2 separate regions of the Homo sapiens genome follow, and region 2 is linked to region 1. Evidence: fine-mapped expression QTL. A gene starts in region 1. The other region holds a variant in brackets. All regions are shown on one strand. Distances are from middle to middle. Region 1 holds the start of SH3BP5-AS1 (SH3BP5 antisense RNA 1). Region 2 overlaps CAPN7 (calpain 7).

Region 1 (5,115 bases):
GCAGAACAATCAGAATGGAATTAAATCTCTAAAAACGTGTTACAGTGGAATCTGGTGCTTGTCAGGGTGTTTGGTAAGAACTGTATATAGTCAGAATTACCTAAATCACCTAGAGGTACCGTTTACATGGTTTTGTGTATATAGAGTTGGCTTGCATTTTAGGGGCCATTTTGTATAAAAAGTGCATATGATTAAAATTAGACTCAGTCATCACTGTGAGATGCCTTTGCTAAGAGGATAAAGGAACTGAGACCAGATGAGAAAAAGAAAGGATATAGATTCCTTGAGTGGAATAGTGGGCTAGATTAATATACCGAAATATTTCCATTGTTTCCCTTTTTTGCAGAGCATGTGGAAGTTAAACCTGCTTGATTCTACTATACATCTTGGGCAACTAGTTACCAAATGAATTGTGCCACCATAACTGATTTTAATTTTGCATTATTTATGATTTTAAAATATTTGTTGCCCAGGTGTTATGAAAGAATAAAGCTTTTAAGTATAGACTACCTTAGCATGAAGATGCTCATGCCTAAGAATGAAAATTGTTGAGGTTATCTCCCATTCAATCATGTAGCAAGAACTTAAAGAAATTCACTACTGCAGTTTTTATTTTTAAAAAACAGTAATTGAGATATTGAAGACATTACAATTTAGTTTGTGTGGTCTTTTTTTAAATTGCTGTATCGTTCAGTCTCTTGTGGCAATAGCACTTTGAAGAAAATAGAGAATTTAATATATGGTGATTGGGATATGTAGCATTCAAAAAAAGTGAATTGCCAAGATACTGGTGTCATGTAAATTCCCACTTTACATAAAAACCCATCAGGACAGAATGATGCTCAATATTTTAAAATTCTAAAAATAGGGTGGGATTTTTCATTGTCTCTACTTTATAATTATCAAAACTTATTTTGTATTGCTACTACCTTAAATTGAAATAAAATGTTTATACTTACGGATATTGCATAGTTTAAGTTAGATTTATTGAAAGATTTCATCTGTCGTGTTTCATGTAAATGAGAACAGATTATTTGCATGAAAATATATACTTCAACAAAAATCTGTTCTTTAACAGAGTAGTGGTAGATTATTACACTAATGAGATTTCACTTTGGTAAATACTTCATGCTTTCAGTTTTAGCCTATTAATTTTAGGTGGACAAATTTAACAAGTTTTCTGTTACTTTTTAAAAAGAAAAAATCCAGAACATAAGAACTATATTATGAACACATGATTTGAACCTGTTGTGGTAAAGATCTTGTACAGGATGCAAACTAAAAACCTAATCCCTGCCATCAAATTTATTAGAAGAGACCTATATATGAACAACTTAAAGGCACTGATTTCTATAATAGAGCTCTAAAAACATGCCACCAGTGTATGAATAAGGGAAAGATTAATTTTGGCTGGACCAATATAAAAAATTGTATTTGAAGAATTGATACTTTAACTTGGACCTTGAAGGTAAAGCTTCAAAAGACAGGTTACTGACCATTGAGTGTTTACTATGTACCCAATGTGTATATTTTTCTTTTTAATCTTCCCAATAGCTGAATAAAGTATAGATACTATTATTTGTACTTCTTACAATTGAGGAAATAAGCCTAAGAGATTAAAAGATTTTGCCCAGGGTTCACAAGCCTTCTTCCCTGAGCCCTGATTGAGCTGCTGTGTGTGTCTAATGGCACCCACAGTCACGGCCGTCTAGTCGAGGGAGGGACAAGATCTAGACCCATTGTAGAGGGAGGAAAAACAATCCAGGCCTTTTGGAGGTTCTAAATAACAGACAGACCAGTTGAATTGTTAGAGAGGATGACTCAAGTTTCTAATTCAGCACATGGACAGATGCTCATAGCTTCAGTGAAAGGTAAGTTTTGACACATTAAATTGCCCAGAAAATCCAGATCTGGAATCAACGTGGTATAGTAAGTGAGATCACCCAAAAAGTCAAGAGTCACGTGAACTAAAGATGGTTAAGAACTGATTTGGGGGAAGTTTTTTAGAAAGTATTTCTAATTTAGAAAAAAATACATAGACTAACAGGAGATACAAGAAAACGAGGGTTGGGGGAGGATTAAGAAGCCCAGTGAACAGAATTCCCAGAAGAGTATAATTAAATGTCAGATGTGGTGGAGATAAAGAGGCCACAGTGACAGCAGTAGGGGCAGACTACGTAAAACTAGAAATTTGACTAGGTGATAGTGTGAGAAGGGAGCCCTGGTCAAAAGGTGGTCTGCATCCTTTTCTGGTGTAGGAGACAAGCAAGTGGTAGGCTGATGGGAAAGGGGGATTGAGGCAGGAAACAAGAGAAATTCTTAATGCCCATAAGGAATACTCTAGTGCTACTGACTGACTGCCTAGGCTTTGTCTTTTGTAAAGACAAGGGAAAGAAAGCCCCAGTGTTAGAAAACTCCTTCCCACTTTCATTCTCTGCGAGAAGTACCTAGAAATTTCTAGTTATTAGACTGTATAACTTGACTCTGCTGTAAAAACTTTATCCTAGCTTGGGCTATTTTCCAGATGGTGTTTCTTCTAGGAGGAAAAAGAATTGCCTCAATTGCAGGGAAGTTTTTGCTAATGGTAAGTCAAGCAAGTCTCAGTGTCTTTACTACAGGTAAAAGGGTGTAAGGAGATTTTATGAGAACTGAATGAACCCTGAAGGTCACTAGTCAAATTCAGGTATGCTGTTAAGTGTTCTTGCTTGAGACCCAAATTACAAGACTGGCCAATTTTTGTATTTTTGGTAAAGACTGGGTTTCACTATGTTGCCCAGGCTGGTCTCGAACTCCTGGGCTCAAGTGATCCACCAGCCTTGGCCTCCCAAAGTGCTGGGATTACAGGCATGAGCCCTTGGGCCCAGCCGGCTGTTTAATGTTCTTAAATAGCACAAGGGACTTCTATGAACTTTCCTAGATGAAATATTTATTAACTACTAGGTAAAACACTTGTTTGATACTGCAAAGGGTTATTTCTGAAACTTAAACCTCATGATTGGCCAACCAAGAACTTTTTCTCCACAGCATGCTTTAATAATGAAATGCGGATTAAGAGTCCAATATTATAAAACATTTCCACAAAAGAAAGAATCCATCTGATTCTCAACTCTGAATGCACATTTGAATTCCCTCGGGGAGCTTTTAAAAGTCTAATGCCCCAGTGTACCCCCCCCAGTTAATTAATTAAATAATTCTCTGGGGATGAGAACTGACTGACAGCAACACTTAAGCTTCGAGACTGCAGTGTGCAGCCGAGGCCCACTCCTCCAGCGTCACCACCTCGTCTTTATCTGCCACTGTGTCTCCTCATTGCCCACAGCTTTAGCAACAGCAAAAGTAGAATTCAAACCTTGGTAAACAAGGCTTAAATTATTACTGTTCATGACCTTAATTAATTGAAAATGATTACTGGTGACCACAGCACTCCATGCTCTTCCTTATGGAAAAAGGGTTGCCTAGAAGATTTAGGCAATACTGGGAGTTCTTATTTGAAGTCACAGAAAGGAGAAACTTTTCTCAAGCCGTTTTTATTACACTTAGTGTATTAAGACAAGTACAAAATAACCTTGTAATTAAGATACTGTATCAGTCAAAAAAGAAGTCACTATTGTATGAAGAGATTTACAAATGACTAAAATATACAGGCTGTGACAGAATTAACAGTTTGAAAGAGGGTTGCTTTTTTCTTTTAGAAATGCTAAATTTTCTTAACAAGACAAAAATACAGTGCTCTAAATATGCATTACCATGAAAACGTTAAAGAAAAGCAGTCTTAACACTTAACTACTATTAACAGCCTTTGCCAACACATGCCTGCCTACTCCCTTTCCTAACTTTAAAGAACTGTTTCCTCTAAGGAATACTAGTGCAGCATAACCCTTAAATAATTTCATTTATTTTTAAAGTTACAACCTACAGAGAAATTAACATCTTGTCAATCTAATAACAGTGGCAACCATTCTTCACATGCACTTCTCTTAGAATAAATCCCCTTGGCTGGCAGGATAAGGCTTATGCTGTAGAACCTTCTCCCCCACAGCCACAAATCCCCTTCTATAAGTCCCTCCTACCCTCATCCCCCCGCATCCCCACTGGCATTCACCTTTCCCACCCCAAAAAGTGCAGCTCATGGTAGCCTTCTAGAAAATGGTTTTAATGGGTATCCCAGCATACACGCTTTTTTAAAAGCCCCCTCTGAACACCAGAGGTGGTGAAAATGAATTGTGTTCTTGGATTTTTTTTTTTTTAAGCCTCCACTGGGTCAAAAATATGTGCTCTTAATACTTGAGTTTTTGCTTTGTGTGTGGGTTTTCTTTCTTTTTCATTTAGATATCGTGGGATAAAGTGGAGAGGACATCTCCATTTTCCCATACAAACTGAGGGTGAGAAGAGAAAGAGAAGCAAGCTGTTGCCCCCACTTTGGCCTGGCTTCCCAGCCATCTTCCCAGCTCTGGTTCTTTCATAGGAACTAGTTATTGCTTCCACAATGCCGTTATACGGAATGTTCCACAAAGGCTGTGAACCTAGTCACAGTCTACCCACAACAAGAACTCTGCTCTGAAAAACCAGCCCAAGAGCTCTTACCCAGAAGAACAATCTTTAGCCCTCAAGGTCACTGAAACTTCATTAGAGCAGTTTAGAGTAGACGTGTAAGATTTGGCATATATTAAATGATTATTGGCACAATGTTCTCCAGTTCCATGTATAAATGTTGATATGCACATCGGCCAGGGCCCAGGATGAATCAGCCAATCTGCACCATTTTTATGTCAGCAATAATTCCATCTCTTCCCTTTGAGCACTGTAGGGAGAGCTGCTTCATCCGGTTCTCCAAGGCCTGGCCCTCAGGGGAGGTGCTGCTTTGGCTCTTACTGCTGCCACCACTGCCACTGCTACTGCTGAGGCCCCGGTTGTTGTTGGCTTTGTCACTTGTTTTATTCTCTGCCCCTTCTGCCCTGTCTCCTATAGAAATACAAGGATTATCAAAAGTGAGTATTGACAATTCTGCCCTGTCTCCTATAGAAATACAAAGATTATCAAAAGTGAGTATTGACAATTCTAAGTCACTTGAGCTCAAACCAGTCAGCTAACTCAGCCCTGTAGAAGTCCCACTGT
Region 2 (5,000 bases), 31 kb before region 1:
CATTTGCATGTAATACTTTCATCCTAGTATCTGTTATTTTTGATGCAGTTGTCTGTCTTTCCCTACAAAACTATGAGTACCTTAAGGGTAGGGATTGTTTTATACGTTCTTTTATACCACTTACCTTACCTTGTATGGTGTCTGATTATGTAAGTGCTTAATTAATGTTGTCAATAGAATATTGTTTGTAAAAGATGCTTATCTTTGGAAGTAGCTGAAGTAGTGAAATGTTGATTAGTATGTAAGAATTTTATATACTAATTTTACATTAGGGATGCTTGACTGGTTCTTCAAGTAAATTTTGTTTCCTGAAAAGCTTAAATGTGAGTAGAAAAACTAGAACAGTTGTTTGTTCCTCTCTGTTATAGAGCAGAAGCGCTGAGTGAGCCTTTGACCAAGCCAGTTGGCAAAATCAGTTCAACAAGTGTTAAGCCAAAGCCACCTCCAGTGAGAGCACATTTTCCACTGGGCGCTAATCCCTTCCTTGAAAGACCTCAGTCATTTATAAGTCCTCAGTCATGTGATGCACAAGGACAGAGATACACAGCAGAAGAAATAGAAGTACTCAGGTAAATAAGTTTACAATTAATTGTAATGAAGAATTTTGTTAACATGAATGCAGAATTTTATTTTCATTAGGTTTGCTGAATTGTATTCAGATTTCTCCTATAGTGTATTGTGCTGTTATTATGTAATTATATCATCATGTAGTCACAACTTGAAATAGTTAAAATTTTAGTTCTGATATATTTTATTTTATTTTATTATTTTCATTTGTATTTTTTGAGACAGAGTGTCACTCTGTTGTTCAGGCTGGAGTGCAGTGGTGTGATCTTGGCTCACTGCAACCTCTGCCTCCTGGGCTCAAGCGATTTTCCTGCCTCAGCCTCCCAAGTAGCTGGGACTACAGGTGTGTGCCACCACATCTGACTAATTTTTTTTTTTTTTTTTTTTTTTTTTAGTAGAGACAGGGTTTCATAATGTTGGCCAGGCTGGTCTCGAGCTCCTGACCTCAGGTGATTCGCCCACCTCGGCCTCCCAAAGTATTGGGATTACAGGCATGAGCCACTGTGCCCGGCTTTAGTTCCAGTATATTTTAATATTAGCGTTTTTGCTAGACATAATACACTTTGCTGAAAATCCTAGCATTCTGTGAAACTGAGCCACTAAAGGTTAAGGAGCAAAATGAGCTGTAGCAGACCACTCTTAATCTATGCAACTTTGTAACCAGAGCCCTAATGGGAGAAAAAATGTTACTTTGAAATAGGAGTGTAGGTGGTGTGCTGGCAGCTCACCCCTGCAATCCCAGCATTTTGGGAGGCAGAGGGGGGCAGATCACTTGAGCTCAGGAGTTTGAGACCAGCCTGGGCAACATGCCAAAACCCCATCTCTACTACAAATACAAAAAATAGCTGGGTATGATGATGTGCACTGTAATCCCAGCTACTTGGGAGGATCACTTGAGCCCAGGAGGTGGAGGTTGCAAAGCCGAGATCACGCCACTGCTCTCCAGCTTGGGCAACAGAGGGAGATCCCGTCTCAAAAAAAAAAATATGTGTGTATACACGTGTATATACATACGTATACATATACGTATATAGTATACGTATACGTATATATATATGTAAAGTTTTTCTTTGAAAGGTTTTACATGCATCAAAAAAAAAAAAAAAGAATATATGACAGAAACCTCATTGCAAAGCCTAAGCTATATACCATATGGCTCTTTACAGAAAACATTTGCCGACCCCCTGTCTAGCGGGGGTTATAGCGTGTCTGAAAGCAGTCTCAGAGGATATTAAAAATGTAAAACACGGCTACTCTGGGCACACTGCCTATGGAGTAGCCCTGTTCCACAAGGAGCTGTACCAAAAAAAAATGAAATGTGAAACACAATAATGTGGAAATTCTTGATTGCCCTCTGAACCAGTGTAGCTAGGATAAGTCCCTGAGCCAGACAGGGTGGCTTTTTTAAAGTTGAGCACTGCAGAAAGTTCAGTCTGCTTAGAGCTGTGTAAGTCATGTAGGTGTTCATCTTTTTATTTTCTAAAATTGAGCTGAAAGGGCTTCTGCCTAGGTAGCAGCCATCTGAGAGCATTTTTCTTTCCTTTCCTGCTGAAGATTGTAATTGTACTCCTGCTAATCTGGCTCCCTTTGTCTAGGAAAAATTGCATGTGCACCAACACAGCACAATACAGGACAAAGAAGGGTAGTTTTGAAGCTAAAAGACTAATAACAGTCCAACACTTTTCCATATGCTACCTTCACATGTTTGAAATTCTGTACTACACCAGAACAACTCTATATTCCACCTAACAAAATGCAGCTATCCTTCATGCGAGTGAAAAGTTTTCATTATCTTTCCAAAATAAGGCTGTACATAGTCCCAACAATCATTTCATCTATTCCTGACTATATTAAGTAGTCCTCAGATTTCCAGGCTATTGTTACCTAAAGACTAAATTCTGAAGTTACTCTGCAACATCTCATAAATAGAATAAGGGAGAGAAACAGATACAAGAAGGAAATAGTTAATATAGATAAATAAGCATATACACAAAACAAGGAGAATGCAAAGCTACTACAAACCTTATTTCTTTAATTTGTCAGTAGACCATAGCTGATATCTATGACACTTCCTTCTTCCACTACCCATTTCATGTCCTCATAACCAGAAAACGTGAAGAGCATGTATTTCAGAATTGTTAATGTGTTTTTTTAATTCCAAAATAACTTAAGCAATTGATTTCTCCCTTTAGGCTTAGCATAGAATTGGTTTTGTGTCTTGGTGTCAAGGACACTTTCATTACCTCTTGAATAGTCTTGTCTTCTTGTGGGTGTTAGCCTTTAAAGAATATTCTTATTGGTTTGAATTGATTCAGTTATTTTCTGATTTTCAATTATTTTATGAAAATATTGTCCAAAGATATATCAACAACATGAGGTTGTCAGTTTAATTTTAATACAGTATCATACCTTGTCATTTAAATTTTAAAGAGTTGAAATAAGATTGGCAATTAAGGTAAACTTGAACATTTAGGTTTTTTTCTC[G/A]TGTTTGATAGGACAACATCAAAAATAAATGGTATAGAATATGTTCCTTTCATGAATGTTGACCTGAGAGAACGTTTTGCCTATCCAATGCCTTTCTGGTAAGTAAGCACTGTTGCAATTTTTAACTCCAATATTTTAACTTTTCAGTACTCTGAAGTTCAATTTAATAGCCTTGAAATTAAAATTTGTAATAAAAAAATTTGTTGGAATAGAGGGGTGGCTGTGGGAAAGGGATAGGGCAACATAGCAAGAGCACTTTTGTTATTTGCCCAGTCATGAGGACATGAGGATCTCCTTTTGCCTAATATTATTTCTGTAGTGTCTAGCACAGTACCTGGTGTAAAGTAAGTACTCCGTAAATATTTGTCCAAGCAGTGATTGAATCACAACAGAAATTCTAACACACAGTAAAGAAACTGAATGGAAAAGGGGAATGGAATGATGTCATTGTTTACTAAGAAGACCAATTCAAGCAAGGACTATTTATGAGAGAATTAGTTAGCACAGCCTTCCAGGACAATGGCAGCTTATGTCAAGAGCTTTAAAAATATTGTTTGGTTCAGGAGTCCGAGCTTGTAGTCATCGTAAGGAAATCAACAGTCAAAGATGTACATAATAAGGACACTCATCAAAGCATCTGTTGCAGCAAAAAATTATTGAAACAAACTGGCAATATGGGAATGATTAAATAATAGTACATCTATACAGTCAAATATTATGCTACTCAAAATAAGTATTTAAAACTGTAGGAAAAAAAATGTTCCCATTACAGAAATCAAAAAGAAAATTATGATGTCCCAAATTTTTTTTTTTTTTCTTTTTTTTTGAGATAGGGTCTCACTCCCATTGCCTAGGCTGGAGTGCAATGATGTGATCATGACTCACTGCAGCCTTGACTTCTCAGGCTCAGGTGATTCTCCCACCTCAGCCTCTTGTATAGCTGGGACCGCAGGCATGCACCATCACGCCCAGCTAATTTTTGTATTTTTGGTAGAGACGAGATTTTACCATTTTGGCCAGGCTGGTCTTGCACTCCTGACTTCAAGTGATCCATCTGCCTCAGCCTCCCGAAGTGCTGGGATTACAGATGTGAGCCACTGTGCCTGACCCTTCTTTTTCTTTTCATGTATTTATAGATGCATAGAAAAAAAAAATGATGTGGAGAAATATACCCGAATATTTACAGTGGTTATGTCTAGGTAACAAAATTTTGTGATTTAACCTCTTTCAGTACTTTTTTATTTTTCAAAATTTCTCCAATGAGCATGTTATATTTATTATTAGAAAAAAAAAGCTGGATGCTTACTATATAGAATATGAAGGCTCTGTAAAGAACAAAAGGGCTGCTTTTTATTTTCTAGTGTTTTGCTGTTCTTTTGCCAAGGGTTAGGTATCACAAAGCCAGTTAACATATTTTTTTCACTCAGGTAGCTGTGTGATGCTAGTAACTGATTGGGACCAAAGGAATTTTTATATCTGAGAAACTTTATAGCATTAATGTTCAGGGAAAGATTCTAGAGCCAGACTTTCTGGTCTCAAACCTTGTGTAACACCGGGCAAGTTGTTAAATCTGTCTCAGTTTCTTGTCTGTAAAATGGGGATAATAATAGAAACTACCTCATAATGTTACTGTGAGTTAATAAAATGTAAAACCCTGAGAATGGTGCTGTTATATAGCAAGCACTATATAATAAAGGTTACCTGCTAGAAAAATCATCATTTTGTTAGTTACTAAGTTATATAACAATTTGGCTGTATATTCCAAATACTTTAACATTTTTTATACCTCTTTGACTAATGATTTTACTTCAGGAATCCAGTTGTAAGGAACTATTTAGAGATATACTCAAAAATTCGTACGAAAGCGATTTATCATTGTTGTTATAATTGTGAAAATGAATCAGTTATTCTGGTATTTTCTTGACAATATTCAAATAGAGATGTAAACT

What was found. PIP is the estimated chance that this variant, and not a neighbour inherited with it, causes the effect. A credible set is the group of variants that fine-mapping cannot tell apart.
Region 2: its variant is the best candidate, but not a certain one, in a credible set for the expression of SH3BP5-AS1 in blood mononuclear cells (TOPMed, PIP 0.57).

The regions. Positions count from the first base shown.
Region 1 is chr3:15,251,342-15,256,456 of GRCh38, forward strand. It overlaps SH3BP5-AS1 (SH3BP5 antisense RNA 1), which reads left to right and starts at 2,843. Exons shown (of 3, transcript NR_046084.1): 1 at 2,843-5,115. It overlaps CAPN7 (calpain 7), which reads left to right. Exons shown (of 21, transcript NM_014296.3): 21 at 1-1,575. SH3BP5 (SH3 domain binding protein 5) reads right to left here. Exons shown (of 9, transcript NM_004844.5): 9 at 3,012-4,962. The coding sequence ends at 4,745.
Region 2 is chr3:15,220,413-15,225,412 of GRCh38, forward strand. It overlaps CAPN7 (calpain 7), which reads left to right. Exons shown (of 21, transcript NM_014296.3): 5 at 369-569; 6 at 3,063-3,149. Among named protein-coding and RNA genes, the nearest start is that of CAPN7, 17 kb to the left of the region's middle. The variant G/A (reference allele first, on the strand shown) is at 3,052.